Homo sapiens: one gene and its partners. The protein of the gene in region 1 purifies or fractionates together with the protein of each later gene. This does not show direct contact. Each region holds a gene or a part of one and is shown on either strand. Other genes may lie near its edges.

The links.
Region 2: the proteins of RIN3 (region 1) and TBCD purify together in Homo sapiens (affinity purification with mass spectrometry, with the first as the bait; one large-scale study listed by BioGRID). This does not show direct contact.
Region 3: the proteins of RIN3 (region 1) and GMPS purify together in Homo sapiens (affinity purification with mass spectrometry, with the first as the bait; one large-scale study listed by BioGRID). This does not show direct contact.
Region 4: the proteins of RIN3 (region 1) and GLUD1 purify together in Homo sapiens (affinity purification with mass spectrometry, with the first as the bait; one large-scale study listed by BioGRID). This does not show direct contact.
Region 5: the proteins of RIN3 (region 1) and PCDHA11 purify together in Homo sapiens (affinity purification with mass spectrometry; one large-scale study listed by BioGRID and IntAct). This does not show direct contact.
Region 6: the proteins of RIN3 (region 1) and ADAR purify together in Homo sapiens (affinity purification with mass spectrometry, with the first as the bait; one large-scale study listed by BioGRID). This does not show direct contact.
Region 7: the proteins of RIN3 (region 1) and SLC25A3 purify together in Homo sapiens (affinity purification with mass spectrometry; one large-scale study listed by BioGRID and IntAct). This does not show direct contact.

Annotation. Positions count from the first base shown.
Region 1 is NC_000014.9:92,516,781-92,520,280, reverse strand, and holds part of RIN3 (ras and Rab interactor 3), read right to left. Parts: intron 1-3,500. UniProt on the Homo sapiens protein: Ras effector protein that functions as a guanine nucleotide exchange (GEF) for RAB5B and RAB31, by exchanging bound GDP for free GTP. Required for normal RAB31 function.
Region 2 is NC_000017.11:82,925,980-82,930,398, reverse strand, and holds part of TBCD (tubulin-specific chaperone D), read right to left. Parts: intron 4,000-4,419; coding exon 3,908-3,999; intron 3,214-3,907; coding exon 3,076-3,213; intron 2,495-3,075; coding exon 2,411-2,494; intron 1,287-2,410; coding exon 1,128-1,286; intron 1,038-1,127; coding exon 899-1,037; intron 1-898.
Region 3 is NC_000003.12:155,932,845-155,937,263, reverse strand, and holds part of GMPS (GMP synthase [glutamine-hydrolyzing]), read right to left. Parts: intron 2,349-4,419; coding exon 2,218-2,348; intron 927-2,217; coding exon 754-926; intron 1-753. UniProt on the Homo sapiens protein: Catalyzes the conversion of xanthine monophosphate (XMP) to GMP in the presence of glutamine and ATP through an adenyl-XMP intermediate.
Region 4 is NC_000010.11:87,091,503-87,096,702, reverse strand, and holds the start of GLUD1 (glutamate dehydrogenase 1, mitochondrial isoform a precursor), read left to right. Parts: upstream 1-1,859; 5' UTR 1,860-1,933; coding exon 1,934-2,378; intron 2,379-2,615; exon of another isoform or gene 2,616-2,724; coding exon of another isoform or gene 2,725-2,770; intron 2,771-4,048; exon of another isoform or gene 4,049-4,121; intron 4,122-5,079; exon of another isoform or gene 5,080-5,200. UniProt on the Homo sapiens protein: Mitochondrial glutamate dehydrogenase that catalyzes the conversion of L-glutamate into alpha-ketoglutarate. Plays a key role in glutamine anaplerosis by producing alpha-ketoglutarate, an important intermediate in the tricarboxylic acid cycle.
Region 5 is NC_000005.10:140,871,957-140,876,375, forward strand, and holds part of PCDHA11 (protocadherin alpha-11 isoform 1 precursor), read left to right. Parts: intron 1-3,284; exon of another isoform or gene 3,285-3,516; coding exon of another isoform or gene 3,517-4,419. Other genes in the region: PCDHA12 (protocadherin alpha-12 isoform 1 precursor), read left to right, coding at 3,517-4,419. UniProt on the Homo sapiens protein: Potential calcium-dependent cell-adhesion protein. May be involved in the establishment and maintenance of specific neuronal connections in the brain.
Region 6 is NC_000001.11:154,590,681-154,595,099, forward strand, and holds part of ADAR (double-stranded RNA-specific adenosine deaminase), read right to left. Parts: intron 1-4,419. UniProt on the Homo sapiens protein: Catalyzes the hydrolytic deamination of adenosine to inosine in double-stranded RNA (dsRNA) referred to as A-to-I RNA editing.
Region 7 is NC_000012.12:98,599,267-98,603,685, forward strand, and holds part of SLC25A3 (solute carrier family 25 member 3 isoform b precursor), read left to right. Parts: intron 1-368; exon of another isoform or gene 369-618; intron 619-688; coding exon 689-861; intron 862-1,904; coding exon 1,905-2,015; intron 2,016-2,101; coding exon 2,102-2,262; 3' UTR 2,263-4,419. UniProt on the Homo sapiens protein: Inorganic ion transporter that transports phosphate or copper ions across the mitochondrial inner membrane into the matrix compartment. Mediates proton-coupled symport of phosphate ions necessary for mitochondrial oxidative phosphorylation of ADP to ATP.

The DNA of each region.
Region 1 (3,500 bases):
AAGCACCATTACCCCATAGGATGTGGCCTGAGTGTGTGCCGTCACGTCACTTACAGACAACAGGCCTTGACCACAACCACGGCCTAGGCCATTTCTGCTAAAAAGAGAACCGACATTTCATTGCAGGCTCGTTCATTCCATTAAACATGTACTGGTTGAGGTGGGGGCACCCCTGGGTATTACTGAGGTCAAATTGGGGCAGGGGGTTCTGCAGCCATGTTCAAAGCTTCTGACTATCAGCACTGTTTCTGCTTTGGGGGCAGTCCCTCCAACCCCTACCCCTGTGGAGAGGAAACATGCCAAGGCTGCACAGAGGCCCTACTGGCAGGAGAGTAGAGGAGAGGACACAGTGGTGGCTTCCAGACTCTTGTATAAACGCTGACACCACACAGATAGTAATGCCTTCCCACTGCCCTGTGGACGCCAGGCTGAGGGAAGGCCTCCCATGTACCCGTCACTCCTCTCTTCTCCATCAAGGCCACGCTGGCAGGAGGGACGGACTGGCTTCGCTGTACTACACTGTGCGTGGGGAGGGAGGCACACAGCGTCACTGCCGCCCCCACCTGCACAGGGACGCGTTGGCTATCTCTGGGCAGCCCTGGGCAGGGAGACCGAGGCCTGGCAGAGAGCGCCATCCCTCAGCCTGGACACCTGTCTCATCCTCTGTTGGTAGGGCCGCCCCTCAGACTCCAACCCTGACAGGGGCAGGCTTCACAGACGGTCTCTAAACAGCCAGGCCCCGTATCCCCGGCTGTCTGCGATCTCCTCAGCACCTCCACAGCTCCCACAGCTGATGGCCAGGCAGGCTCCACCTTACCAGCCCAGCCACCCTCGAGAGGCTACTCCAGCCACACCAGGGCTCCCCGCCTGAGAAACCTTCCCAGCTCACTGTCCACTTGGCAAGGAGCCATGGGTCCTGCCCCAAAGTGGGCTCCCAAAACCAAATGTACTTTTTTCAAGACTAGGTTTTTCAAAATAAAACCACAGCAATAACAAAAAGAAAAAGAAAAACCATTTCCTTCCAGGTAGCTTGGTCAGGGTAATGAGCCAAAAGTCTCCTGGATGGGTCTTTGTTTCTTGTGAAAGTGCCTGCATGTTCTAGACTGTTCCATGGGCCACTTCAGCTCCAATGGGCACTTTGATCCCCTGAATGCTATTACTCTAGGACACCAGCTTCCGTTGCCTGCTAGCTGGTAACTCAGGGAGCCGACTGTCAGAGCGAGCAGGGACCTTGAGAACATGGAGCTCTTTTCTCAGATGGGAAAATGAGGTCCAGAGGGAAGGGAGCAGCTTCCTAGAATAAAATCCTAAAATACTAGAGGAGACAGGACCCCAGATTCTCTAGCCCTACTGATGACCTACAACATGCAAACACCCACGCCTCTTCCAAACCAGCAAAGGACAGTTCTGCCTAAGAAAAGACACGTTGGCAGCCATGGCTGACACTGATGCTGACACACACACACACACACACACACACACACACACACAGGCCACCCTTATTTTCCCAGTTTCTCAGTGGTCCAGAGACCCGCATTTGGGACCCACTGATGCCCCAGGGCTCCCCCAAGTCTGTACACCAAGCTATTCTCCATTCTTCCGGCTGAGACACAGTATCCAGGGCTGGCCTCTCCTTCCCCCATCCTTTCTCCCTGACAAGTATCAGGAGCACAGCTGGGGAGGATAAAATTAGGGGAGTTGGGGCCAAGCAGGGTCCCTACTCAATTGCCTGGGTGGCCTCTGCTTTCCAGACTTGGAGAGGAGTGTGGTAGCCTTGTGGTGGGGGTCACCAGCTGCTGCGGAATGGAGTTGGGCTCCTAGCCCCCCAAGCCCTGGGTCTCCCCCTACTTAGCCCCGCCCTGTGATCTAGGCCACCTTGTAAACACCTCCAGAAATTCAGGGGCTCCAGGGACACAAAAGAAAAGGCTGTGCAGCCTTCAATCAGCGTATCATTGGCCTCAAGCATTTATGGAGTGCCAAGTGCATGTAGGACACAAGGATATGGAACTAAAAGACCTGACCCCTTTCTTTGGAAGTTTGTAACTGAAGTAGGAAGTCATGATATTAAAGAGGTTTTGGCTTCTTTCAAATTGCTAGGCAAACAAGCGGTTCATGTGAAAAAGGCTATGAATATTCAAAAAGGAGGAATCTCTGTGAGCTGGCATGGATAGAAGGCTACATGGAAGAGGTGAGCCCTGTAAAAAGGGCAGAAAGAACCTCATGGGCAAAGGTACAAGACCACAGACAAGCTCTGCACGTTGGAGAGGACAGAAGATGTGAAGCTGTACACTGGCTTCCAGCAGGGCTGGGCTGGGGTACAGAGGGCAGGACTTTCTTGAGGGACCTTTTAAATAGGACAGCATGTCACCTGAGGGCAATTAGGGAGCTGTTGGGGGACACACCACTTTCCCTGCCTGGCCTGAGAGTCCCTCTAGCTTGATTGGCAACAACCAAACCACCAGAAGGGCCCACTGTGGGGTAGGACGGAGGGGAGATCCAGTTTGGAAGTCATTAAAGTTGTGATTTTCATCTTTGGCTCCAATCTTGGGGGAAAACATCCATGTTTCAGACACTCCTGGTGGGCAGGAGAAATTCGACTTCCTGGTTCTCAGAATAAATGCTGGTTCGGGGCAATAGTTGTATCAACAGGACATTCTGGAGTTGGCCATCAGAGCAGCACCAATCAATTACCCAATAACAAGATGATAACGCATGGCCCCCCACTCTCTTCTAAAGGTTACTCCCTAATAGGATCAGATAGCTGGGGGCCAACAGGAAGTTAAGGGGCCTTGGGTGTCATTTACCCCATGTTAAGGCTCTTTCTGAACACACAGATGCCCCCAATCCCCTAGGTGACCCAGGCCCCAAGGATGGGGTTCTGTGGGCAGCCCCCTTTATACTTTTGCCCCTCTTCTGTAATTCTCTCCCCAGACAAAATTTGTCTTCCGTTTCCTCAACCCCTGTTATCTGATAACAGTCGCTTTGTAAAGCAATGTGTGTCATGTACCTCTGGGTTTTGAAGGGTGCACTCCCTGCCCCACAAGCCCCTCCACCACACTTTCCCACCTCCCGAACCTTTGCTCAGGCACTCCCCTCCTCCGAGCTGCCCACCCAATGGTGCTCACTCATCACTGCCTAGATGACACAGCTTGCCATGTCTTGCCATGACAGGTGGAATCTTCCAGGGGGTTACAGAGACAGAGTTTGTGGCCATCTGTCACCCATTCTTTCCGTCTCTGCTCTGGCAAGGGACTGGGAGGCACCACAGACCACCTCAGACTCCTGTCTCCAAAATGGAGCTCCAGGGAGGCCTAAGGGGATGGTGAAGGGTCTGGGTGTCCTCCTTCAAATATCATGCCTCTCTCTGCTTCCAGCTGAGATCAATTCCTGGTAGGTTTCCAGTTTTGATTTCTGTATCTCCTGGGTTAAAATGCGGGTGCCCTGTGGCATTTCAAGCTTTTCACACTTGCAGCTTCAGTGAAGATCACAGATCAGGGACC
Region 2 (4,419 bases), on another chromosome or scaffold:
GTCTGGCCCCAAGCGGCTGGTGCGGACGCCAGCACGGAGCCACTCACAGTGCAGACACCCGAAGCAGACACAAGGCTCTCGGCAACGGCAGCTCAGCCTGAGCCCTCACTTAGGACATGCGGGAGAGCACGTGACGAAAGGCTGCGGCCACTCACCTTGGGTTTCGCTCACGTTTCCCACTGAAGCGGGATTTGATAATCCCCGCAATTCCCGAGTGCAGAATGTCTCGGGGCCCCGCTCGCATGTGGCCCGGGTCTCCCCGCACGCGCCCGCACGGCGCAGAGGGCACCTCACGTCCTGGGGCCCGGGTCTCCCCGCACGCGCCCACACGGCGCAGAGGGCACCTCACGTCCTGTTACGTGTTTTCTAGGACTTAGCAGCTGTCACAGGGTTGCCACATAAAGCAGGTCATGACCCAAGGTGCAGGGGCCACGAGTGACAAGATGCAGAGAGGCCTTCAAGTTCCACAGCTCAGCCACAGACCAAGGCTCTGGAGACCCTCCCCACAGACATGAGAAGCTGGGCCTGGAGCCCTGAAAGTGGAGGGCGGAGGCCGATCTAGAACCTGATGGAGCCCAGGTACCCACATGCAGGCATCAGACACAGGTCCTGGAGGATTGAACCCCGAGGGGACGCTGGGAGCTCCAAGGCTGCGGCCGCAGGAAGAGAGTGGCGCTGGCCCTGTCCCACCTTCATCAGACTCAACCATCCCACAGGCCCTAAGCCTCCTGGGTCATGAGGAAGACACTGGGCCCCTGACCCCCTAACCAAATATGCCCGAGAGAGATAGAAAGCAATGGAAGAAAAGGCCCAGCTCCATACATGCTCCCAAGAGACAGGGAAGCACCAGGCACTCCTGGAGCCACCTCCTGCCCCAGCCAGCCCGACGCCTCCTCACCGTCGACTCCGTCAAGCCGCCCAGGGACACGACTAGCCCCAGCAGGACGTGGTAGCGGTAGGTGGGCAGCCCAAGGAGCTGGGTGATGCGTGGGAAGGCCTGGGAAGGTGCACTCCAGTTCACGGAGGCCACATCGGACCTGCAAGAGAGTGAGTGAGACAAGGCCGGGCTGCCAATGATCTCGCCATGGCTGCGGGGCCAGCACGGGGGGCCTACACCCCGACAGTACCTGGGAAACAGCTTTTCCAGTTCTCCTCGGTGGGGCACGTGGGGGATGGGAGGGCTGTCAAAGTGCAGGAGCGTCAGGAACACGCTGGCGGCGTGAGCACGGAAACGGTCAATCTTCTCACTGGCCTGCTGGGCCACACAGCACATGATGCGCTCACAGCTGCAAACCGAGAGCAGGAGGTAAACCAAGGGCGGGCGGTAAATTAAGAGCGGGCGGTAAACTGAGCACAGGCGGTCCGAGCCGTGACTCCAGCCCAAGCACCACGAGGACATGCGGGCTCCTCGGGACATGGTGGCTGAGTTGGCAGCTGACACCAGGACACTGGCTCGGAAGAACCACACTCCGTTACCTTCACATCCCAGGAGCCCAACCCTACAGGTGCGCAGCAAATACATGCTACGTACTTGTTACACATGTGCTACGTGTTACATGCGTGCTGATGAGGTCTTAGGGTTGAAGCAGGGACAACAAATAGGATTACAGGAGCGGGTGGAGAAGAGTGATGGGGACAGAGAGGCCGGGGATGGGGAGAGAGAAGCTGGGGCTGGGGAAGAGATGGGGAGGGGGAAAGAGAAAGAGGTGAGAACTAAGGAAATCAGGCCCTGGGATCCCCACGGCCGAGTGTCCCTGACAGAGAGACTGACAGCAAGGGCAGGGCCTGGACCCCCATGACTCAGTGCCCCCGACAGAGACCCGCAAGGGCAGGGCCTGGACCCCCTGACTGAGTGCCCCTGACAGAGATCCGCAAGGGCAGGGCCTGGACCTCCATGACTCAGTGCCCCCGACAGAGAGACCGACAGAAAGGGCAGGGCCTGGGGGTACCCACAACCCCGTGCCCCCGACAGAGACACACAGCAAGGGCAGGCCCCAATGGCAGCCTCAGGTGCAGGGAACTGAGTGATGGCTCAGCTGGTCCTGGCAGGAGCAGACCCCCAGGTTCAGGGTCCTAAGCTGAGAAGTCCCCACCTCCTGCCCGGCCCTACCCCGGGAAGCTGGCTGTCATCAAACTGGCCAGAGCACCGTTGGAGGCCCAGGCTGGGGAGCAGAGCCTCGTCCTGGGGGCACTGGGCAGAGGAGGATGGGCCCCAGCTCACGCCATGGCTATGGGGGCAGGAGGAGGGGCCTGCACAAACCTGGGGTCAGGGACCAGAGAGGCTCTCTGGGAGGAGGGTGTGTGCCCAGCAGTGCAAATGCCACTGAGCACCAGGACCGCCCGCCCCGCCAGCCTCCCCAAGCTCGGGGCTGCCCTCTAGGATGCAGAAGAGCTGCGACGTGACACTCACGTATGGGCCTCGATCAGCTCAGGCTGGCTCCGAGCCAGCAGAAGTGTCAGATCCATCAGACTGGTCATGGCGGCCTTGCGGACCCTGATGGGACAAGGAGAGGCAGAGACACCCAGCTTGAGAGGGGGGTTCCAACCCTGGTTCTGCCCACCACGCCGGCAGCCTGTGTGAATTCGACACCCGTGACTAACCCCACACAGAGCCCAGGCACGCTGCCAGGGAGTCACGGGGCCTGCAGAGGTTCCCTGTGCGCTACAGGGACGTGTGCAGGGAGCCACCCACAGCCACACACACCGGGGCCCCGAGGCATCCTACACACACAGGCGTTTCAGGGGTTATCAATCCCACTACAGCAAGAAATGTTGGCAAAACCCAATGTAAGCAGCCGGCAGCCTTTCATTGAAGACGCGTCCTCCCTCACACCCTGTCAACGAGGACGACACAGGCCCAACACCTGAGGACGGGCTGGACAAGCACCTGCAAAGCCCTGCCACGCAGGCTCACCCGGGAGCAGAGAACAGGTCATCTTCCCCAGAGCCTTTAAAACGCAAAACACGGCACAAATCTACAAAGATTTCTCCCTGCAGAAAAGCCCGGGGCCTCCGAGTTTCCACGGAATAGATGGGCTTCTCAGAAGAAGCGCTCACCCACTGCTACGTACGTACCAGGTGCCCACGTCCCCTCTGCTGTCCGTGGTGTAGTCGTCCATGCAGCCCAGCAGCGCACAGTAAATCTGGGAAACATTCTCTCCGCACACAGCTTCGTCTGGGGCTCCTGCTTTCACACCAACAGTCTGGCAAATCCTGAAATTTAAAATGTGTGAGCTAACAAACAAACATCGGTGAGCCTCATCTTCCACATCGCAGAGGGCTGATGTGTGTTCCTGATCCTGAGAAGACACGCTCAGAACAGTCCAGGACCCTCGGGTAGATCAGAAACACAGAGCTCCTTCCACATGTATGGAACGTGGGACGTGCTTCCCCGAGGTCACGCTCTGCCGTCTCTCCGGTTGAAAGGTGGATGGGGACGCCCCCTGCGGCTGGTCCCTCCCACTTCCCACCCTGACTAGAGGGAACGGATGCTGGCATAGGAGAGAAGGGGGCGTGCGTGGCCCCCGCGGGACTGCTCCTCTTGTGTGCCTGCAGGGAGGAGAGGGCATATGGCGTGGCCCCAGGTGCGTGTCTGTCAACGAGTGCAGAGATCATTCCAAACACTGGCTGGCAGGGTCAGCTCCTCTTTGCCAACCTTGGGCCAGGACACATTCTCCAATTCTCCAAGGGGCCCAGTGTCCCTAAAGAAGTTTAACATTCACTACGACTATGACAGCAAGAGAATGAAAGAGCCTCCAGCAGCTGGGACTGACGATCCTCTGGAAGAGAGGAAACCTAGGAAGTGAAGAATCATAAGTCCTGCCTCTGAGCAAAAACATCCCCCTTAGCGTTCATCTGCTGGCCTTTCAGAGACTTACGACTTTAGGGAGGAACTGTTGGGACTCACCTCGCAATGGCCTTCAAGCCGTCTCTCCTGGACTCAGCAAAACTTACGTCCTCGGGGGAAGTGTGGGTAACTGCTCTTAAACCTGTGAGAACCTGGAAAGCAATAAAGAATCACAGAAGAACCATAAGCTATAACAAAGTGCACTCTTTAGGGAGGTGGCAATGTTGGCCCGGAGCCACAGACCCCACACCATGAGATAGGCAGCTCCTGGCACCACCTTCCTCACGGCCATCCATGGCCCCTGGTACAACCCAGGAAGGACACCCGGGGAGAGGTCACCTCCAGCCTCTCCACGGCCCCCAGTACAACCCAGGAAGGACACCCGGGGAGGAGTCACCTCCAGCCTCTCCACGGCCCCCGGTACAACCCAGGAAGGACACCCGGGGAGAGGTCACCTCCAGCCTCTCCACGGCCCCCAGTACAACCCAGGAAGGACACCCGGGGAGAGGTCACCTCCAGCCTCTCCACGGCCCCCAGTACAACCCAGGAAGGACACCCGGGGAGAGGTCACC
Region 3 (4,419 bases), on another chromosome or scaffold:
AAGCATGTGATTTTATGTGTTTCAGCCAATGCTCTGCAAATTATCTGCAGCTTAAACATACAACTCTAAGGGCCACCAAGGTGGCACAGAGTACACTGTAATAATCATTATCAAGTATACAGGAGAGGATAGCCTGCTCACTTGTCAAATTTGACAAATTTGAGCCTAAGAGAAAAATGACTCTAAGCCACGTTCCGAACCAACCCATCTACCTAGCTATCACGACAGCTTCGTGTTAGTGCACTGGAGGCAGTGGCCCAACTAATAGAGTCTCACTTTGATTTTCACTTGCTATTATGCAAGTAGCTCCTTTGGAATGTTCTGGTGAAGACAAAGAAGGATCAAAAATTGAGTTGGAATTGGTAGTAGGGAGAACATTTAGGCAATTCTTGGGTGTCTGGCCATAAAGCTATCAAATTGCATCCTTATTTCTAACAAACTCTTCTTCACTCCTAGAGTTTTCTTTTTTATTTGGGGAATACTGTTTGTAAAGTAGAAATTGGCAGGATTAGATAAAATTATAATCAATTACTTTTTATACAGTAATCACACAATTGGAGAGCATATATAATTTAAAGCCTTTTTCTGCCCCAGTGTATTAATCAAATATGTGAAAATTTAAAAAAAAAAGCCTATCTTATGAACAGAAAACCAACATAAGAAATACAGCACTGGCATAGCCTATTCCATTCACCATATTATAAAATGTAAGAGGTACTGAGAACGTGCATTAGAAAAAAATATATAAATTACCTCTACAGGGATCTCATTGCCAGGTGTTGCAGGTATACCAGTCATGAAGTCACTAGTAATAAAGGTTCGAATAACCACAGATCTCTGGCATGAAGGCTGCTTTTGAAGTGGGTCCCGATCAAAATGTAATGGTGTCAAAATCACCGGCATCTGGCTGATTTTCCCAGCATACCCTAGAGAAAGGTATATGTAGAACCAATCACCACACCATAGAAAAGCACTCTAACTCAGTTCAATTAAATCCTCCCAGGCAATATCTGAAATCACATATACACACACAGCGTAGTTAAGACTGTCATCATGCATTGATTTCAGCTACTCGCAGAGCATTTTAAATGGACTTAATCACAAATGCAAAAAACAGAATTTGATCACATCAGTGATGTTTCACTGATGTGCTGTAAACAGAAACAGTCCAGTCTCATTATTCTCTATTATAATTTGCAGTATAGTTATATTCTACACTGCAAACAACGAATTAGCGAATACTGAACCATTTCTCCCAGGGGAAATGGAGGGTTAGGTTCCTGCAAGCCTCTGGTTGTAATATTTTCATCAACTGATTAATATATAACCTTGTTTTATGTGTTTCTGATTTAAGACACTGTATTTAATATTTATTATAGATTCATTAACACTGAACTGACAATCAGTAGCTCTTTAACTCATGCCTGAATGAAGTTTATCTAACACACAGATTTTCTCTGTAAGGTACATCACAGCATTCCTGTGCTTAGGAACCCAGACAGCACTTCAACACTATAGTTGAGATCCATTTTAAACAGCAAAATCACCAACAAAAGACATAAAAATGCAAAAGATATAGCATCAAGGAGACCATGAAAAAGACTTGTTCACATTATGAGAGCTGAAAACAAGAAGGCATAGCGTCACCTTGTTCAAACTCAGCTGGGAACATCTAAGTCTGGAAATTCAAATTTTCTGCTGCTCTGTGCATGTCCACAAATGGCCACAAAGGGGAATATATTTTATTTAGAAGCAACATTATAGGCCAGGTGCAGTGGCTCACGCCTGTAATCCCAACACTCTGGGAGGCCAAGGCTGGCCTGACCTGACTCCTGACCTGATCACATGAGGTTAGGAGTTCGAGATCAGCTGGCCAAAATGGCAAAACCCTATCTCTACTAAAAATACAAAAAACTAGCCAGGTGTGGTGGCGGGTGCCTGTAATCCCAGCTACTCGGGAGGCTGAGGCAGGAGAATCACTTGTAACAGGAGGCAGAGGCTGAAGTGAACCAAGATTGTGCCACTGCACTCCAGCCTGGGCGACAGAGCAAGACAGACTCCGTCTCAAGAAAAAAAAGCAACATCATAGAACATTCAAAGATTTAAATAATAAAAACAAAAGCATCTAAAAAGCAAAAGCCACATCCTCCTACTCTTAATATCAAGCTTCCAAAAACTAGTTTCAGAGGGTAGTAATCAAAAACATGAGCAACTTACCAGACTCCCTGAGAATGTTATGGGCCTCAAAATCAGCTTGGCGTAAAGTACTGAGCACCCCTGTTGTCAAGAAAGTGGGAGTAACATCTGTAGGAGGTTCTTTAACTGGTGGGCCAAATATATAAACAACTCTGGAAACAAAGAGGTAAAAATAATACAGCAATTACATTTCAAATGTAGAAATTACATTTTAGTATGAGAAGCAAGGCACTTAGAACAGTAACATTCTTTCCATTTCCCACTTAGTTTCAGGCCCTTCTCCTGCCCACTTCAACTCCCCAGATGGATAGGACAAGATATAAGATTATAGGAAGGTCTGTGTTCTACGTGTTTTCCTCAAAGTGTGTTCTCTGGAATATTCTGTATCTCAGAATGTGCAAAGATATAAGTGATTATTACAACTCTCTTTTCACTTAATGTACTGGGTCGAAGAGTATCCCCAAAACTTCATGCCCACCCAGAATCTCTGGGGAGAAAAAGGGTCTTTGCAAATGTAATCAAGTTAAAATGAAGTAATACTGGATTAGGATGGGCTCTAATCCAATGACTGGTATCCTTCCAAGTGCTGGGAAATTTGGATACACAGATACCCACAGGGGAATGAGGGTCATGTGAACACAAAGACAGACTGGACTATGCTGCCACCACTCGATAGTAGGAAGAAGCAAGGAAGGATCCTCCCCTAGAGTCTTCAGAGAGAATATGACCCTGCCAACACTGAATTCAGACTTCTGGCCTCCTAAACTGTGAGAGAATAAATGTCTGTTGTTTTAAGCCTCCTAGTTTGTGGTGATTTGTTATGGGTAGTCCTAGGAAACAAATACACAATTAAAATTTAAAAATAGGTGTCTTTATGACAAGACTTCAGAAACTATTAATATACTATGCTAACATGCACTGGAAATCTCCAAGAGGAAACTACAGTGAATTTCCCAAAATTAGTAAACTCATCTTTTTTTCTCTACTTGAGAAACAATCATTCTAGAGAGATTCTCATTTGCACTTCATTAAAAAGGCCATTGAAATAGGACTTAGTATCCTACTACTTCCTTCCAAAAAAATGATTCATTAGTGTTTTATATAAATGTCTGTTTGAAAGACATGAAGATACACCACAAATATCTTGAGTTAATGAGAGTACAGTTTGGAACATAACTTGAGGAAATTAGAATCAGACAATTTTAACAACTTGAAGTGTAGCTGGCCACTGGTTTGAAGGGATCTGTTTCACAATCTTCACCCAGAAAACAAGAGGGAATCAGGGTAGAGATATGAGTGCCACTTAGCTAGTTCTCCCTATTCACTTTTCGTTAGTCCTGTTTTTAGCAAAGAAAATAAATCTCCCCGGAAACTATCATGGTAAAGTTTAATGTTTTTTCTTCTTTTCTTAATATGTACTTAGGTAAAATACACAATAGAAAACCATATTAGCACAAAACCACCGGTATCACCAACTACTTTATTGTCTCCTTCCAAACATACTACAACAGAAGCAAGGTTTTTGTCCCACGTATAGACAGTAAGTTATAATTTTTCTAAACAATACAGTTCCTAAAGTTCATAAAAGATCTTTACAGGAGAAAGTTAAGAGAATGCCATGAACCTGCTCTTTTCACCTTCTCATTTCTTACAAACAAAAGTAATCACTAGAGTGTACTGGGACAGGTATTTACCCACACTATATATGACAGTAAAACTGGAACAGTCCCTCCCTGTACAAAGATTCCCTTATCCAAATTAGGAAAAAAACCGGCAAACAGGGAAGAATATTTTTAAACTCCAATTCATCAAAAAGACCCCAGCAAATAAATCTAAAGTTCACCAAGATTCTTTTTTTTTTCTTTTTCCTTTTTTTGAGATGAAGTCTCGCTCTGTCGCCCAGGCTTGAGTGCAGTGGTGCAATCTCAGCTCACTGCAAGCTCTGTCTCCCGGGTTCACACCATTCTTCTGCCTCAGCCTCCCGAGTAGCTGGGACTACAGGCACACACCACCATGCCTGGCTAATTTTTGTATTTTTTGTAGAGATGGAGTTTCACCATGTTGCCCAGGCTGGTCTCAAACTCCTGGGCTCAAGTGATCCACTCGCCTTGGCCTCTCAAAGTGGTGGGATTACAGGCGTGAGCCACCATGCCTGGCCCCCATTATTGAAGATAGTAATAATTCTATTTTTCAGCATTTTAAAGATGCTTCTGTATTTGACGG
Region 4 (5,200 bases), on another chromosome or scaffold:
ATCGTTTTGCAGGTCCAATGGGTGTCATTTTAAAACCACCCAAGTACACTGAGACCGCTAACGCTAGTAATGTGGTGTTTGGCAGCTAGTTTTAATGACTGTCATTAGAGCTTTATTTTTTATTTTCTTTTTATAGAGACGAGCCCAGGCTGGTCTTGAACTCCTGGCCTCAAGCGATCAGCCTGCTTTGGCCCCCAAAGTGCTGGGATTACAGGCGTGAGCCACCGTGCCAGCCTCGTTAGTTTGAAAAGCACCAAAAGCTATCCATAGGAATGTGAACTTTAGCATTTCCTATCAAGTATGTATAAATACATAACTGAACCCTCATACAGCATAAAGCTTATAAATCATATACTGAGGCCAGGCGCGGTGGCTCACGTCTGTAATCCCAGCATTCTGGGAGGCCTAGGCGGGCGGATCACTTGAGGTCAGGCGTTGGAGACCAGCCTGGCCAGCACAGCGAAACCCCGTCTCTACTAAAAATGCAAAAATTAGCCGGGCGTGGTGGCGCGGGCCTGTAATCCCAGCTACCCCGAGGCTGAGGCAGGAGAATCGCTAGAACGAACCCAGGGAGGTGGAAGCTGCAGTGAGCCGAGATGGTGCCACTACACTCCCGCCTGGGCGACAGAGCAAGATTCCATCTCAAATAAATAAATAAAATAAAAAATAAATCATATACTGAACCATTTAACAAATACATATATTCCTGAGAAAGAATTTCCTGGGGGCATTATCGCATTTCTAGTTTCCTTATTTTAGACTATTTCAGAGGGAGATAGGGTCTCCCTCTGTTGCCCAGGCTGGGGTGCAGTGGAGCTATCGTAGCTCACTGCAGCCTCGAACTCCTGGGCTCAAGCCATCCTCCAGCCTCGACCTCCCAAAGTGCTAGGACTAAAGGCGTGAGCCACCGCGCCGGGCCGGAGCCTCTGTCTGCAAAGGTGAAGCAGTCAGTACTGTGGGGCGACACAACCACGACGTGCGTAACTATGCGATCTCCACACTGCGGAGCAGTTGAACGGGACAATAAAAGCTCGCGTGGTGAGAGCTTGTGGGCGAGTGACTCCCTTCCAGCTCACGCCAGCCACGCATAATCCAACTCCGGGTGCCACGCCGCTCTCTGCAGCCCTGGCTGGTGACGCCGAGCCCTCAGCCCGGCCTTACGCGGCGGCGGCTCTGCCTCGCTTTCCTGCCCACGTGTCAGCCCCTGCACGCCCGGCCCCGGCCTGAGGCCGCCAGAGGACAGGCCAGGGTGGGCCGCCCGTTCCGAGGGCGCGCGGGCGGAAAGGAGGGGCGCCCGTGACTCACATGACCCGGTCCCCGACCAGACCGCCAAGCCTCACCCACGCGGCGCTCGGGGGGACTCGGCCTCTGAGCGCCCTACAGAGGCCAGCCCCCGACCCCGACCTCCCTGGGCTACCCCCAACCCCCCTGAGGGACCCCCGCGGCGCACATACCTGAGAGCCCCGCCGGAGGCGGGTGCGGCCTCCGGGCAAATCCGGCCGCCCGTGGGCCCGCCCCGACCCGCCCCGACCCGCCCCGACCTTCCCCTCCCTGCCCCTCCCGTCCGTTCCCCTCCACTCTCCTCCCCGCCCTTCCTCTCCCCTCCCCTCCCTTCCCCACTGGCGCGCGAGCGTGCGCGCCGAGCCCGCCCGCGCCTGCGCGCCCCCGACGCCCCGCCGGCGCGCGCTGCCGCCAGCGAGGCCCGGGGAGGCCGCGGCGGAGGCGGAGGCCCGGCGCCCTGGGCGGCGCCCTGTCCCCGAAGTCCGTCCTCCCCGTTAGGTGGCGAGCGCCCGAGGGGAGGGGACAGCCGGGCAAGCAGGAAGCTGCGGCTTAAAAGGGCAACCCGCGCGGGACCCTTCCTCCCTAGTCGCGGGGAGTCTGAGAAAGCGCGCCTGTTTCGCGACCATCACGCACCTCCCCTCCGCTTGTGGCCATGTACCGCTACCTGGGCGAAGCGCTGTTGCTGTCCCGGGCCGGGCCCGCTGCCCTGGGCTCGGCGTCCGCCGACTCGGCCGCGTTGCTGGGCTGGGCCCGGGGACAGCCCGCCGCCGCCCCGCAGCCGGGGCTGGCATTGGCCGCCCGGCGCCACTACAGCGAGGCGGTGGCCGACCGCGAGGACGACCCCAACTTCTTCAAGATGGTGGAGGGCTTCTTCGATCGCGGCGCCAGCATCGTGGAGGACAAGCTGGTGGAGGACCTGAGGACCCGGGAGAGCGAGGAGCAGAAGCGGAACCGGGTGCGCGGCATCCTGCGGATCATCAAGCCCTGCAACCATGTGCTGAGTCTCTCCTTCCCCATCCGGCGCGACGACGGCTCCTGGGAGGTCATCGAAGGCTACCGGGCCCAGCACAGCCAGCACCGCACGCCCTGCAAGGGAGGTGAGCGTCGGCCGGGCCCCGTCCCGCCCTCCCTGCCTCCCCTGCGGCCCTCCCCTCCGGCCTCCTGCCGGTGCGGGGCCGCTGCTCAGCCCAGCCCAGCCCAGCTGGAGCGGGCCGGGTCCCCGCCCGGGTCACCCCGCCTCGGATGTGGCCGGCTCTGTGGATGGTGATTTTTCCGCCTTAAAATCATCATGCGATTGGCCTGCCCCCTCCCCCGCGCCGTCACCCCGGGCCTCTGTATATGCTGATCTTGCATGCAGAGTAGACGCTGCACCGGTCTCCTTTTGGTCCCGGTGTCTGTGTCACACACGGCGGGTCCTGCCGAAATGCACTTCTAGGAAAGGGAATGACCTGCCCGTGTGATAATGCCTCGTCAGTGTTCTTGGGCTTTTGTGAGTCTCCCCTAAATGCAAGCTGTCAAATTATTTTCTGGTATTTGTTCACTCCTGTTCCAATAGTGACAGATGATATCCGAACATAGAAAATGACTTGGCTTCTAAGTTTGAAATCTAGACAGTTTTATTAACCAAAGGAATTTACTAATCACGCGTTAATCGTTTCAATTAAGTAATTTTCCCATTCTGACAAGTTCTGTTTTATACCAAAAAAAAGGAAAAACACAAAAAAATCACAAGCAATGTAATATCTCTGACAAATAAACACCTGGCGTCCTGACAGTAAATTTACAGGTTGTAGGCTGCGGATGGCCAGCCAGCCAATGGAATGAAATAGCTCTGGGGGTGTGTACTGGTCCTGGCTAGCCCTGAATTTGAGCTTCAGGAAAAATATAGTACGTGAAGAAAGGGGTCAGATAATGTTTGGTAGTCACTGGGTTATCCTGTGGTTTAAATCATTTAATGTCTGTAGATTTGGCCTCTGTAGTCAGATTGCTTTCTTCGAGCAAATAAGAGCTTTTTTCCCCCCAATACATTGCATCATACCTCTTTAGTAACATAAAATGGAAAGGACAAACCACTTTTGTCTACTGTAAAAAAGAAAAATTATATGGAATAAAGAGCCCAGGGAGGCGAGGAGTCTTGTTGGAGGTGGATTGGCTGAGAAGCACAGAGGATGTTGGGCTAGACCCATGTCTCAGTAAACCTGGTTCTGTGGTCTTTCAGTTATGCCCGCTGACTTATGAGGATTTTTAGAAATCCTCTCTGTACCGGAAAAAACTTGAGCGGTGCTGGTGTTCCCAGCAGGGGGGACAAAGGTTGTTTTTAAAGATTTACTAAATTTGCATTGACCCCGCCCACTTCTAGGACTTAACTTTGGAGCTTAATTATCCCCTAGCTCTGGTTGCCTCAGCCAAAACCAATGTTTGAACCACTTTGACCTCTGATTTCCTTTCTAGCTTCAAAATTGTATAAAATGTACACACCGTCAGTCTCCTACATTTGCCTGCCTTCTTCCTACCACTCCCTTATTATCCAAACCAGGAAAACAAGTTCAGACTCCAAAGAAAGGCAAATAAGGATGTTGGAGGAAGTTCAGGCAATGTTTAGCAAATATTGAGTTGCATCGTTTTCTTAAAACGGACATCAAGTTTATTTTTTACTATCTTGCTGGCAGCATTTGCCAGTCCTTTAAAAGGTGTACAGATAAATCAGTGTATGTGGTTTTCTGCAGGATGATTTGGTCTCTGAAATCCTTTTTCTTCGATTCTTCAGATGCCCAGCTCTCTCCTGTTTTTATAAGTCGCAGCTCCGCAAACTCACTGAAGCAACTCGTTTACCATAGTTTGTGAGTCCTCTTTCTCTTGTTGCCACAGCAGTTTTAATGCCAAAATATTGAACCTAGCAACAAATTGGGTCAGCCATACCAAAGCACTGTTACTGTAGCACTTGCTTGTACTAGAGTGTAAGATACAATTTTCTGTTCCGTTTATCCCATTTACAAAAAAACATGCTATTAACCCCCAGCATATAAACAGGGAGAAACTGAATTGTTACTAGTAAACTGTTGCAAGCATTGATAGAACATCAAAGAAAATTGGCCTCTACAAAGTGACAAATTTATTATCTTCAGGAATTTGAAAGGCTTTCTGGATTGGGGAAGATTACATAGCTATGAAAGCCCTTAAATATTTTAGTTTGCTTAATAAACAGTATACTAAACAGATGATCAGCAAAATTTGGGTACTATAGCCTTCCATGCTTTGTGTTCAAGACATCCCCAGATCTATCTACCCATTTATCACCCTTGTTTGCAGAGAATGTGCATTGTAAGAGAGACAGGTCTTCTTTCTTAAAGCTTTTTTAACGTCTAAGAAATTGTTAACCTTTGTAGTCCCACTCTAGTCTTAGAAACACAGAATATATTAGGTGATTGAGATTTTTTTAAATGCTTTGGATAATCCCTATGAAATTCTGTCTTTCCCTCTTAAACATATTTTAACACGTTCTTCTTACCTCTCCCCACTAACCTGTCTTCTCTCCCATTGGTTCTTTGCCAAAAAAAAAAACCTCATCTGCCTCTCTCCACCCTTTTACCAACCTTCAGCTTTCTGTATCTCATTTTCCCTCAAGAACAACCTTATCCCTGAGTTTTCTAAATTAAAATTCTTGAGGTTGAAGCAAAGCAACAATCTAGCAATAATCTCTAAGGGAAACAGATGGTTATAAGACTTGGTGGCTGATGTGTACTTTTTCCAAGTAAATATTTAATAATACACACTGTTTTTGTGCTTTTCTTTTCCCAGTTACTACATGTACCTGAGGCCGTTAGATTTGTCTGTGTTAAGGATTTGAAAGGGTAAGCTAAAGGATCTGAAGGGAAGTTTAAGTGAGGCCTTAAAAATATTTCCAGCAAAGGGGCATAGT
Region 5 (4,419 bases), on another chromosome or scaffold:
GGAGGTCTTCCTATGATGTCCAGGTTGGACTGCAGTGGCTATTTACAGGTGACCTGTAGCCTGGAACTGCTAAGCTCAAAGAATTCTCCCACTTCAGCCTCCAGAGTAGCTGGGAATGCAGTGCCACTGCACTTAGTCCATTGGCTTTCCTAACTTCAGGCTTGTATCAAAGCTAGAATACTCCATTAGTATGACATGATTTACTTTTCTTTTTTTTTTTTACAGTGTTAAACGTTCATCATAAATTCATTATATATGAAACAATCTTTACTTTTGTCTTTATTCCTGTGATAATACTTGTTTTCATATTGTTTGAAGAAAAAAGTTAAGCCTTGCATTCTTATATGCTGCTTTATGGAAATAATATGACTAAAATTCTACATGTTCTTGCCAGGCAAAGTGGTTCAGGCCTGTAATCCCAGCTATTTGGGAGGCTGAGGCAGGAGAATTGCTTGAGCCCAAGAGTTCGAGGCCTGCCTGGACAACATAGCGAGATCCTGTCTCTATAAAAAATTAAAAAATTAGCCAGACCTAGTGGTGCATGCCTGTAGTCCCAGTTTCTTGGGAGGCTGACATGAGAGGATCCCCTGAACCCAGGGGTTCAGGGCTGCAGTGACCTATCATCGTGAGACCCCCATCTGAAAAAATAATTTTTTTTGCCTGTTCTTGATTTTGTTCCATGAAAAGGCAAGAGATTTGTCAACTATTGGATACTCAAACAAAATGGCATGATTTATGATTCCAAAGGAAACTAGGTAAATAAAATTATTCAAATTATCTAAACTTGCTAAAGACATGCATATAGGGCTATATTATCTATAATATATGCTAGTTGGCATTCTTCCATAAGTTTTTCAGATTCATCTAGCAGAGAAAAAATTAAATATATTAATGTGAGTACCTACTGACAATTATCAGTTTCATTCATCTCACTTTGTAACTGCTCTATCTTGTAATGCCTTATCTCTAATGTTTTTGAAATTTTCTTTCCACGTAGTATCATCCCATCTGAAGATTTGAGCAAAGATCATTTACTTCTGAGTCATTCTTCATATTTAGTTATTCTTACTACACGTAGAGTGGTGGTATTACAGACTTTCTTGAGAATCATATCTAGCTATTTCCCCCCCGTATAGAGGCATAACATACCATTTGGCACAATATTCAAAGAGTCTATGCTGAAGCCTATTCATAGACTTTAGATCGAGAGCTTTTGTATCATAATATTCATTGGCTAAAAACATTCTTTAAGTATTAAAGAGAAGGCAACAATATAAAAATATAAAATATTTCAGACTCAAAAGTGATTAAACCATCATACCACTTATGAAACTTTATAAATATAATAAAGGTGAATATTAGATAGGGCATACATTACTCATCTCCAGATGAAATTTTTGGAATAACTGAAGATCTTTTAAAGACTTGGGAATGTTTTCAGTACAGGTTAAAATTTTGTAAATTATTATTTTATATCACATAAATAACAAATTTGCATTTTAGATAATTCAAATTACTTGGACTGATTTCTGCAAAGTTGTGTCTTTTATACTTAATGCCAAGATTGCATTCTATGGTATAAAATTATAATTTCAATTTATTTTCTAGTTTGGTTGTTTAAGTATTAAGCTAAACTTAGATGTTCCTATTGGCTTAACAATTTGTTTAGGTCAAAGAGTATGTGAGAACTACATAACACACTATTATTATTTGTTTCTTTTTGAGATAGAGTCTTGCTCTATCACCCAGGCTGGTGTGCAGTGGCGCAATCTCAGCTCACTGCAATCTCCACCTCCCATGTTCAAGCAATTCTCCTGCCTCAGCTTTCCGAGAAGCTGGGACTACAGGCATGCACCACCACTCCTGGCTAATTTTTGTATTTTTAGTAGAGATGGGTTTTCACCATGTTGGCCAGGCTGGTCTTGAACTCCTGACCTCAGGTGATCTGCCTGCCTCAGCCTCCCAAAGTGCTGGGATTACAGGTGTAAGTCACTGAGCCCAGCCTATTTTTTAAAATTAAAGTTCCTTAGCATGTATGGTACATTGACCACTTTTGAAAATGAAAAATAGGAAAGAAACTTGGTGATGATATTAGACAATTTAAATAATTAGCCTGATGACATCAAAATTCAAATATGTTTTTAATTACTTAACGTTTTATAGTTTATTTAAGTTATCTTATACTTGTAGAGCCATTCTTGGTTACTCTTTCCTGGTGTTGTAAAGGTGTCATATTTCAGTTGCCTTTATTATTATATGCAGTAGGAATGAATGGCAACAAATTATTGGTTTAAAGATTTTGACTTGAGTATTAATAGACTTACAAAATCTATGTGTACTTGTTCACAATGAGTTGTAGGATCTTATCTGTTTTTTTCTCTTAAAGCTGATCTTGAATTAATGAATAAACTCATGAAAGGTCTTTTGATGCCCCCTTGCATAACAGTCACCATTCTGATTTTCTGAAGAGAAGCATGTCCTAACTACTAAATGACCTGTAGGGGAAGATTTAGAGAAAAAGCAAAAGGTTGATATCAAGTTCACATTCTCTTGACTTTAGTCAATGAGATTAGGCTCCAAAACCCTTTAAGAGATCTTTCGCATTTTAGTGCTCCATTGTTGCTTTGGGATAGTGTGAAATTTGGAGGCTTCAACTAAACATTTTACATTAAAGTGCTTTACTTTTGCTAGAGTAAAACTTTCCAGAATCTATTCCTGAGATTTGTTTTAACATGTTATGGAAATGAGAGCAGTTATGTGAAAAGTTATCACATTCAAGCATCAAGGAACCAAACAATAACGCTCTCCATATTTATGATGAATTCTAACTTTCATCAGATTTATGAATAAGACAATTTATATAAATGAAATATTGTTTGGTATTAGACATATTTTAGTTTCTTATCCTTTGTTAAATACAAATTCCTAACTTTCTCTAAAATCTTACGATGGAGTGCTTGTGAAGGTTAAAAGTTATTGAAACAGCGGAATTGTAAGCTATATAAGGGGAGGGGTGCTGTATATTATTCTGTATATCATTTTCCATGATAAAGTGTAGGTTCTGGCCTACTGTATTTGAAAGATTTCTACTTTGAAGCAGAAAACATTTTTAAGCTACAGCGTAATAAAATTGTTGATGTTTTGTTACTAATATCATGTATATTAACTAAACCCGCATTTATAAATGATCCGTGAAAAATAACCCAAAGTCGAAACATTAGAATTAAGAGTGACCCAGGAAGTGGCTAAACCGAAAAGAACCTCAGGATCTTTCTTGTACTTACATAATCAGTCACATGATGTCGCTCTACACTCAGAAGGTGAAACAGGAAAATTTTTTTCTCCGCACCCACATTCCAATCATTCACGGAATAGGATCGACTCCATAATGACTGTGATGCTGGAAAAAATTTACTAAATATGTACTTACAGAAAAGGGTGACTGCTCATAAAATACCTCAGGCAAGCGATCCCTTAAAACTGATTGTCCCAACTCAGAGGCCCTCATTTTCTGCAATGGTGATTATCGGACCAAGAGGCCCGGGATCCCAGCGTCTGCTGCTCTCGCTTCTGCTCCTTGCAGCCTGGGAGGTGGGGAGCGGCCAGCTCCACTACTCCGTCTACGAGGAGGCCAAACACGGCACCTTCGTGGGCCGCATCGCTCAGGACCTGGGGCTGGAGCTGGCGGAGCTGGTGCCGCGCCTGTTCCGGGTGGCGTCCAAAAGACACGGGGACCTTCTGGAGGTAAATCTGCAGAATGGCATTTTGTTTGTGAATTCTCGGATCGACCGCGAGAAGCTGTGCGGGCGGAGCGCGGAGTGCAGTATCCACCTGGAGGTGATCGTGGACAGGCCGCTGCAGGTTTTCCATGTGGACGTGGAGGTGAAGGACATTAACGACAACCCGCCGGTGTTCAGAGAAAGGGAACAAAAGGTACCTGTTTCTGAATCTGCGCCTCTGGACTCTCATTTTCCTCTAGAGGGCGCTTCTGATGCGGATATCGGCGTAAACTCTCTTTTGACCTATGCGTTAAGTCTAAATGAGAATTTTGAGCTTAAAATAAAAACAAAAAAAGATAAAAGTATATTGCCTGAATTAGTTCTTCGGAAGTTATTGGACAGAGAGCAAACGCCAAAACTCAATTTATTGCTGATGGTAATCGATGGCGGTAAACCAGAACTAACAGGGTCTGTCCAGATTCAAATAACCGTCCTGGATGTGAATGACAATGGTCCGGCGTTTGATAAGCCCAGCTATAAAGTAGTGTTGTCTGAAAATGTCCAAAACGACACAAGAGTGATCCAACTAAATGCTTCCGATCCAGACGAAGGACTTAATGGAGAAATTTCCTATGGGATCAAAATGATTTTGCCAGTGAGTGAGAAATGTATGTTTTCAATAAATCCAGACACAGGTGAA
Region 6 (4,419 bases), on another chromosome or scaffold:
AGCAACTTGAGGAGCTAAGGTGGGAGATCACTTGAGGCCAGGAGTTCAAGACCAGCCTGGGCAACATAGTAATCCCCCAGGCAACATAGCGAGACCCCTGTCTCTTAAAAAAAAAAAAAAAAATTTAGCTGGGCACGGTGGTCTGTGCCTATAGTCTCAGCTACTTGGGAGGCTGGGGTGAGAGGATCACTTGAGCCCTGGAGGTCAAGGCTGCAGTGAGCTATGACCATATCACTGCACTCCAGCCTGCGCGAGACAGCAAGATCCCCATCTCTAAAATAAACAAACAGACTCTAAAAATGTAAATATCCGTAATACTAGGTATGAAAAAAGAGATAAAAATGTAAACACACTGAAATAGGAAACTTTGTTTCACTACTGTAAATGGAAAACCAGTATCACTTGCCACATATTGAAGGTGGCTGTAAAACAGAATATGATAAAATCATGTTATAAAATTCTGACTAGATACTGTTACCTGCAAAGGCTCTGAGCCTGTCCTTACTATAAAGGAAGATTATGAAGTATGAGGAAGGCTTAACGAAATGCTAGCACCAACTTGGACTCTCTTCTTAAGCAGAAATCAGAAGGGACTACCTTTCTCCCCACAAGTCACTGTTACTTCATACACTGTCTGATTTTTAAAGCGCCCAACTCCATTCCCTCATTTACTTCCTATTAGCTCAAGGGGACTTGACCTGGAGAGGTCATTAGGTCAAGGTCGGCCTTAGGCCAGGGACCCAGGTTTTGCTGGGAGTTGTTTTTTTGACTCCTGGCAGGCTTAAGCTAACTCTGGGGTAAGGAATGGATCTTGGGCGCATGAGCTGCGCTGACAATAAAGTGCCCAAGTGGAGCAGGGAGGTGGCTTCTACCGCTCCGGCTGGTAATTTCCAAACACAGAGGGAAGAGCATGGTGGAGCAAAACAGCTTGGAAATGTACCAGACAAGGCATCAAGAATCCTAGCTTTCAACCAGATCCTAATCTACTGGCTGAGAACCCAGCTTTGGATACTCTAACTGCATATAACAGAGGCTTCAGTTTCAAGACTTAGCAGCTCAGGCAGTAAAAGGAATCAACGTTTATGTTCAACCACATGGAGTTTCTCACTGTTCCTTGATGATCCGAAGCAACTAAATGCCTTCACTCTTTTCTTTGTCCATGCTGGCAGGCCCGTGCAGGCCAGTGGGCTTAAGTTCAGAATGAGAGGGACAGTGGCATGAAAAGAAGATGGTGAAGGCGGTCAGGAGGGACAGATTGTGTAGTATCTTTACCTCAGGGATCCAGGAGAATTTCATGACTGCCCCATGTGTTTGAAAAGAATATGAACTCTTACGTGCAAAGTTTTATACTGATATATTTACATATATGATAAAGTTTGTTAATTATGCAACTAGAATCCTTTAGAGCTGTGCTATCCAATATGGTAGCCACTAGCCAAATGGGGCTATTGCCATAAGTGCCTCCTCTCAGCCTCTTTGCCAGCTCTGCGCTTCTCCCACCACAGGATTTAACAGTGTCCTTCGCCTAGAACCCTCAGTCTTTCTCTCTTCATCATCCTTAAAGTCTCAGCTCAGGCAGTACTTCTTGGGGAAGCCCTTCCCCCTCTCCTTCCTAAGTCAAACTGTGCTATAATTGATTCTCGCTGCAACTCCAGCCCTTTGGAATACTTATCAAATATGAGATCTTACATTTCTTTAGGTGACTATTGGTTAATGTTTGGTTCCTGTTCTAAAAAAAATAGAAGATACTCCATAAATAAGTGTTGAGTAAATAAAGTATAAAGATCAGTTAGGAGGCTATTGTGACAGTCTAGATGAGACAGTGGCTTGGATTAGAGTGCTGACGCTGGAGGTGGAAAGAAGAGGAAGGGATTTGGGATAGAAATTCTAAGTATAACCAATAGGACTTAAGGATGAGTTGACGAAGGAGGTAAAGGAGATAGAGGAAAAGATGATCCTCAGGTTTCTGACTTGAGCCACTGGGTAGACAGTGGTATCACTTACTAAGCTGGGAAAGACTTGGGGGAAATGAAGCGAAGGGGGCAAAACCCAAGAGTTCTGCTTTGGACATGTCATATTAGGGATGTTAATCCAAACAGAGGTGACAAGTAAGCAACTAGATGGAGGAATCGGGAGCTCTGAGTGGTCTCCAGCATTTAGATATTAAAGGTCATGGCTGTCGCGGTGGTTCATGCCTGTAATCCCAGCACTTTGGGAGGCTGAGGCGGGTGGATCATCTGAGGTCAGGAGTTGAAGACCAGCCTGGCCAACATGGTGAAACTCTGTCTCTACTAAAAATACAAAAATAGTCAGATGTGGTGGCAGATGCCTGTAATCCCAGCTACTCGAGGAGCTGAGGCAAGAGAATTGTTTGAACCCAGGAGGCGGAGGTTGCAGTGAGCTGAGACTGCGCCACTGCACTCCAGCCTGGGTGACAGAGTGAGACTCCATCTCCAAAAAAAAAAAAAAAAAAAAACAGAAAAGAAGTCATAAAATTAGTTAACGTCACCAGCCACAGTAGACAGAAAGGAAAAAAAGACCCAGCATAATTCACATTAAGAAGCAACTAAAGTATATTATTGTACGAGATAGTTAATAAACGTAGTTACTCAATTAGCATTTCCCCTCTCTATGCAACCTTCCTCAGCTCCCTGGCAGACAGTGGCAGCAGTGTCCTCTGTGTCCCCACAGCACTCTGCATTCACCTCCAATGGCACATTTCAATACTGCTATGGCTATATGTCTGCTACACACTCAGGGGCAGCAATTTTTTGTATCTTCCATCTAGTTCATAGTAAGTTCTTACATTCTCAATGAATGGCTGACTTGAAGTCCTAGAAAGGATTTCACAGAAGATTTCACAGAAGAGAAAGAGGAAATGCACTGAACCTATCATCTGAAGGACTGTGCTTAAAGATAAGGAGGTGCTTATTGAGATGAAGGATATGAATTAGTAGAAGAGCAGCTGGAGGGAGACTGGGCCTCTCCTTTTCCAGATGGCTTAAACAGTGGGCAGATGTGTGTTCTAAATTGGGTCATGTTGGGCAAAGGGCTACTTTTAAAAATTATGTTAAAAGTTCTTACATATCCATGAGAGTAACAATCTGAAAGAAAACTGGAAAAGGACAAGAACAGGTGGTTCACAGAAAAGGAAATGCAAATAACACATAAATATGAATAAATGAAATGCCATTACTTCTGATTTTTTTGTTTTTTTTTTTGAGACGGAGTCTCACTCCATCACCCAGGCTGGAGTGCAGTGGCACAATCTCAGGTCACTGCAACTTCCGCCTCCTGGGTTCAAGTAATTCTCCTGCTCAGCCTCCGGAGTAGCTGGCATACAGGGGCATACCACCATGCTCAGCTATTTTTTGTATTTTTAGTAGAGATGGGGTTTTACCATGTTGGCCAGGCTGGTCTCAAATTACTGAGCTCAAATGATCCACCCACCTCGGCCTCCCAAAGTGCTGGGATTATAGGCGTAAGCCACTGCGCCCGGCTGACATTACTTCTATTAAGGAGAGACAAATTTAAAGTAACAAGATAGCATTTTTATAAGCTTTTTTCCTTAATGACTTTAAAATGGACAAGTTGGATGCCAAACATGTGAAAATTCAAACAGTTAAGAGTGTACAATAAAAGTGTCCCTCCTTCCCCAGAAGCAAACACAGTTGCCAGTTTTTTCGATCCTTCAAGAAAATATTCTAGACATATACAGACAATCTTCACCTCTCCCCTCACTTTACACCTTGCTTTTCCACTTTGTGATAGACCTTAGAGATTAAGAAAACATGCCGGTTGCATGGCAAGAGTGATGCCATCTTGATGCAAAACCACTATGACCACCAATATCTGACTCCCGCATCCCAAAGTGTTGGGTAGCATAAATAATTCCACACAAAGATGTCTACCAAGCCTCCCCACCAGCTAGTGCTCATAAGTTTCACAAGAAAGTATAATGTGTGACCAGCTGCATGTTTAACCAAAAAAGCCTCTATAGAAAGCATACTTTCTGGAGGGTAAGTGCAGGGATCCACCATCTTGCAGCCACCCAAGACATCATTTCTGTTCCTAAGTCCCTATTAAATGTTTACTTCTGAGAAACTGAATTTGTCAGCTTCTATTCAATGAAATACTATGCAGCTATGCAAGAAGTCTGGTAAGTAAAGGAGTCAACGTATAAAACAGAAGATATACTTGTTTAAAAAGACAAAAGGGAAAATGTGCTAGTTATGCACAGCAATTTCTAGAAGGACTCAAGAAACTGGTATAGTCATGTACTGCATAACAGTGTTTTGTTCAATGATAAATCACACATATGACAGGGGCCCCGTAAGATTATGATGGAGCTGAAAAATTCTTATCACCAAGTGCAGGGCTCTGTAACCTGTTAGGAACCTGGGCACACAGGAAGAGGTG
Region 7 (4,419 bases), on another chromosome or scaffold:
GGTCTCGAACTCCTGACCTCAGGTGATCCACCCGCCTCGGCCTCCCAAAGTGCTGGGATTACAGGCGTGAGACACCGCGTCTGGCTGTGAACTTCATTTTTTAGTATTAAGCCTACCAGACTTTTTAAAAAGACTATTATAACATTTAATGTCTATTTACCTGTATGTAGAACATAAACTTGAGAGGTAAAGATAAGTTAATACATGGTTTGAGCCCTGGACTGAGTTTTTTTTTTTTCCCTAGAGTAAGGACCATTTGTCGGTCTACAAATGACTTGATGTTTGGCCTAAACATTTACTATTAACTTTTAGGGAGGGCTTGTTAGTATCCTTGTGATCTATTCACAGTTAAGAATTTCCATGACCACAACATGCTTCCTTAGATCCACCTTTGTGGATGAATCTTGAACTGAGTTCCACTTGTAAACTTCTTGTTTCTTGTGGTTCCAGTAGTCAAAGAAACATCCAGCAACTTTTTTGGTTGTATAGTCAAAGGTGCTTGAGTCATTGGCATGTAAGAGAAATATACCTGCATGTTAGTCTAACGTTCTGATAGAAATGACATGCATTTATGCTGCCATTTGTTACTATCAGGACTCGACTCGTGTGCGGACATTTCTGTTAATAATGACAGTCTCTGATAGATGAGTGTATGCAACTGTGTAAAACAAGTCTCTTGATTTCCTAGATTCTACAAGGGGGTTGCTCCTCTCTGGATGAGACAGATACCATACACCATGATGAAGTTCGCCTGCTTTGAACGTACTGTTGAAGCACTGTACAAGTTTGTGGTTCCTAAGCCCCGCAGTGAATGTTCAAAGCCAGAGCAGCTGGTTGTAACATTTGTAGCAGGTTACATAGGTACGAATTACTTAGAACACACTTGTCTGAAATTATGAACAAATAATCATTTCCATTATTGGCGTTTTTTGAGAGGGAAAAATACTCCAAAGGTTATAAAGCAGTGTTTTTGTTTTTTTGGTTTCCCTGAGGCATAGTCTCGCTCTGTTGCCCAGGCTGGAGTGCAGTGGCATGATAATAGCTCACTGCAACCTCCTCCTCCTGGGTTCAAGTGATTCTTCTGCCGCAGCCTCCCAAGTAGCTGGGACGGGCATGCACCGCCATGCCCGGCTGATTTTTGTTTTTGTTTTTTGTTTTTTTTTGAGATGGAGTTTTACCCTTGTTGCCCAGGCTGGAGTGCAGTGGTGCAATCTTGGCTCACTGCAGCCTCCGCCTCCTGGGTTCAAGCGATTCTCCTGTCTCAGCCTCCTGAGTAGCTGGGATTGCAGGCGTCTGCCACTACGCCCGGCTAATTTTTAGTATTTTTAGTAGAGACGGTTTCACTATGTTGGCCAGGCTGGTCTCAAACTCCTGGCCCCAGGTGATCTGCCTGCCTTGGCCTCCCAAAGTGCTGGGATTACAGGCGTGAGCCACCGCGCCTGGCCTGATTTTTGTAAAGATGGGGTTTCACCATGTTGATGAGTCTGGTCTCAAACTCCTGACCTCAGGTGATGTGCCTGGCCTATAAAGCAGTTTTATCTTCCCATAACATTTTATATGCTTTTTAGGATTCATAAATACTTGCTAACTAGTTCCTAAAAGGGCTGTTTCATGGGATGTCATTATTAGGCTTGGGAATGTATTGATCTTACTGTTGCACCATTTTTTTGTTGTTGTTTATTAAGAATTTTATACAGAAAGTGTTGAATAAAATCTGAAAAACTTTAAAAGATTGTTCCGTTTTACATAGGATAGACAGCTTGATAACTGTACCCGTGTCACCCTGAGTCTGATTTTTATTTTAGAACTAGAAAAATATTATTTTAAAATCATAAAAATGATTATTGGCTCTGTGAAGTTTTGTTTTTAACTGGCACTGTATGGGATCCTTTATCTTTTTTCAGCTGGAGTCTTTTGTGCAATTGTTTCTCACCCTGCTGATTCTGTGGTATCTGTGTTGAATAAAGAAAAAGGTAGCAGTGCTTCTCTGGTCCTCAAGAGACTTGGATTTAAAGGTAGGATGATGTTTTTTTCTTGAAAGAAAGAACAACAGTTTTGGATATGTTGCATTTTTTTCATTTGCTTTTCCTGTTTGAACCAGGTGTATGGAAGGGACTGTTTGCCCGTATCATCATGATTGGTACCCTGACTGCACTACAGTGGTTTATCTATGACTCCGTGAAGGTCTACTTCAGACTTCCTCGCCCTCCTCCACCCGAGATGCCAGAGTCTCTGAAGAAGAAGCTTGGGTTAACTCAGTAGTTAGATCAAAGCAAATGTGGACTGAATCTGCTTGTTGATCAGTGTTGAAGAAAGTGCAAAAGGAACTTTTATATATTTGACAGTGTAGGAAATTGTCTATTCCTGATATAATTACTGTAGTACTCTTGCTTAAGGCAAGAGTTTCAGATTTACTGTTGAAATAAACCCAACTCTTCATGATTTGCCTGTGACTTATTTTTAAAACTTTTTTAAAAAAGATTTAGCTTTAAAATAGTTGGAAAGAATGAAGTATATAAGTTAAGGAAAAAATACAAAACTGACCATGACCATTGTTGGTTGAATATTCCAGTTGCTATTCAGAAATTGTCATATGTCTCAAGTTTTATCACACAAAGTTCCTGTATTTCTAGGGAAGCAGACTTTAAATTTCTAAAAACTTGATTTAATTATAGTTAAATATGTGTAGTCATTTGTGGTTATTTTGGCAAGTAAATGTCAGTGTATACTTACATTTTTGCAGCATGTACTACACCTTTTTTATGTTGGTGAGTTTGCTAATCCTTATTTGTAAGACAAGGTAAACCAAATTAGGCTGATTCTTAGAATGACAGTAAAGGACCAAAGTGATTGACAGCTGAAAACAATTTTCAGGTACACTAATTCTCTTTACACAGATCTGACTTTTTTTTTTTTTGAGACGGAGTTTCACTCTTGTTGCCCAGACGAGTGTAGTGTCGCGATCTCGCCTCACGGCAACCTCTGCCTCCCAGGTTCAAGCGATTGTTCTGCCTCAGCCTCCCAAGTAGCTGGGATTTCAGGCATGTGCCACCACGCCCAGCTAATTTTGTATTTTTAGTAGAGACGGGGTTTCCCTGTGTTGGTCAGGCTGGTCTCGAACTTCCAACCTCAGGTGATCCGCCCGCCTCAGCCTCCCAAACTGCTGGGATTATAGGCATGAGCCACCGTGCCCGGCTCTGACTTTTTACAGAAAATTGAACTATTTTCAGTCTGGTATTTTAAGAAAGGTACTGCTTGACAGCTGAACTATATGAATGCCACTGGGGAAAAAGCATTCCATCATACTTAGATACGAGATTGGATTGTAGGTTTAAGCCCATTTTTAAAGAGCTCCTAGAAAGTGAATTAGTTTTTGTGTTTAGATTCCCCTTAAGTTTGATTAGGAAGTGTATAAAAGTTCAATCTTTTGTAATGACAGCCCACCACTGGAAAAAAAACGAAAAACCTAGTGTAATATATAACATGCTGTTTTTCAAACACTAGATTTTACCTAGAGTCCTTATGTGTAATACGTGGGTTGGTTAACAGTCCCTACGTAAAGCGTACAGATGGCCTGGAGAGAAAAACTTTTTCAGAGATTGGAGAGAAATGTTACTACAAACTCATGGTAAGGTCAGTGAACTCAATTTAGAAGCCAGTGCAGCTAGTTGCATGTTAACTTCTTTATATCATCATTGCCTGAACTTGTTAAAGGTTCCAACATTTTACCTGTGCTGCAGGAAAAAAGGAAAAGTTGTAGGTACAAATTTGGACCAAACTTTAAAAAGGTAAAGTAGGATGTCTTCTGAACCCAACCAAGTGGTGGCTGTGGTGCTTAGCAGTATCAACTGTATATTATTTCTTGCTATGTTAGCAAAGCATCCAAAGATCAATGGTGTATGATAAGCTTTTCTGTGGGTGAAGAACTCGGGAGTATCAGACTCTTCTGGTTCTGAGTCTCATGAAGCTTTTCACTTCTGAGCTGAAAGGATGCTCTTTGTGCTTTTCACTATTAGTGGTATAGTCTTTCCCGAAAATCTCTAGCATGGTGGCTTCAGGGCAGCTGGACTTAGGTGGTATTTTGGGGCTCCAGGAGAGCTTGGCAGAGTTGGCTTTTTAGGACTTATCCTTCAATGTCACATAACATCACTTTTACCATGCTCTTGGTTACAACAGTGATGTCTCAGAAACCAAGTCCCAGATTGAGGAAAAAAGGAACATAGTCTCTACCTCTTCCTGAGAGGAAAGTCAGTCAACGTGTAAGAGGAGCAGTAGAAACGCATTAGTCCAGCCAACGTGAAAGTGGACCGTAGATCTAAAACATTTTGGGTATGCAGTTCAGCCAGCCCTTACTGAGGCAGTTCTGCCAATCAGGATTCAAGTTTTATTTCCTAAGAGTTATAATAGGTTTTATTTGTG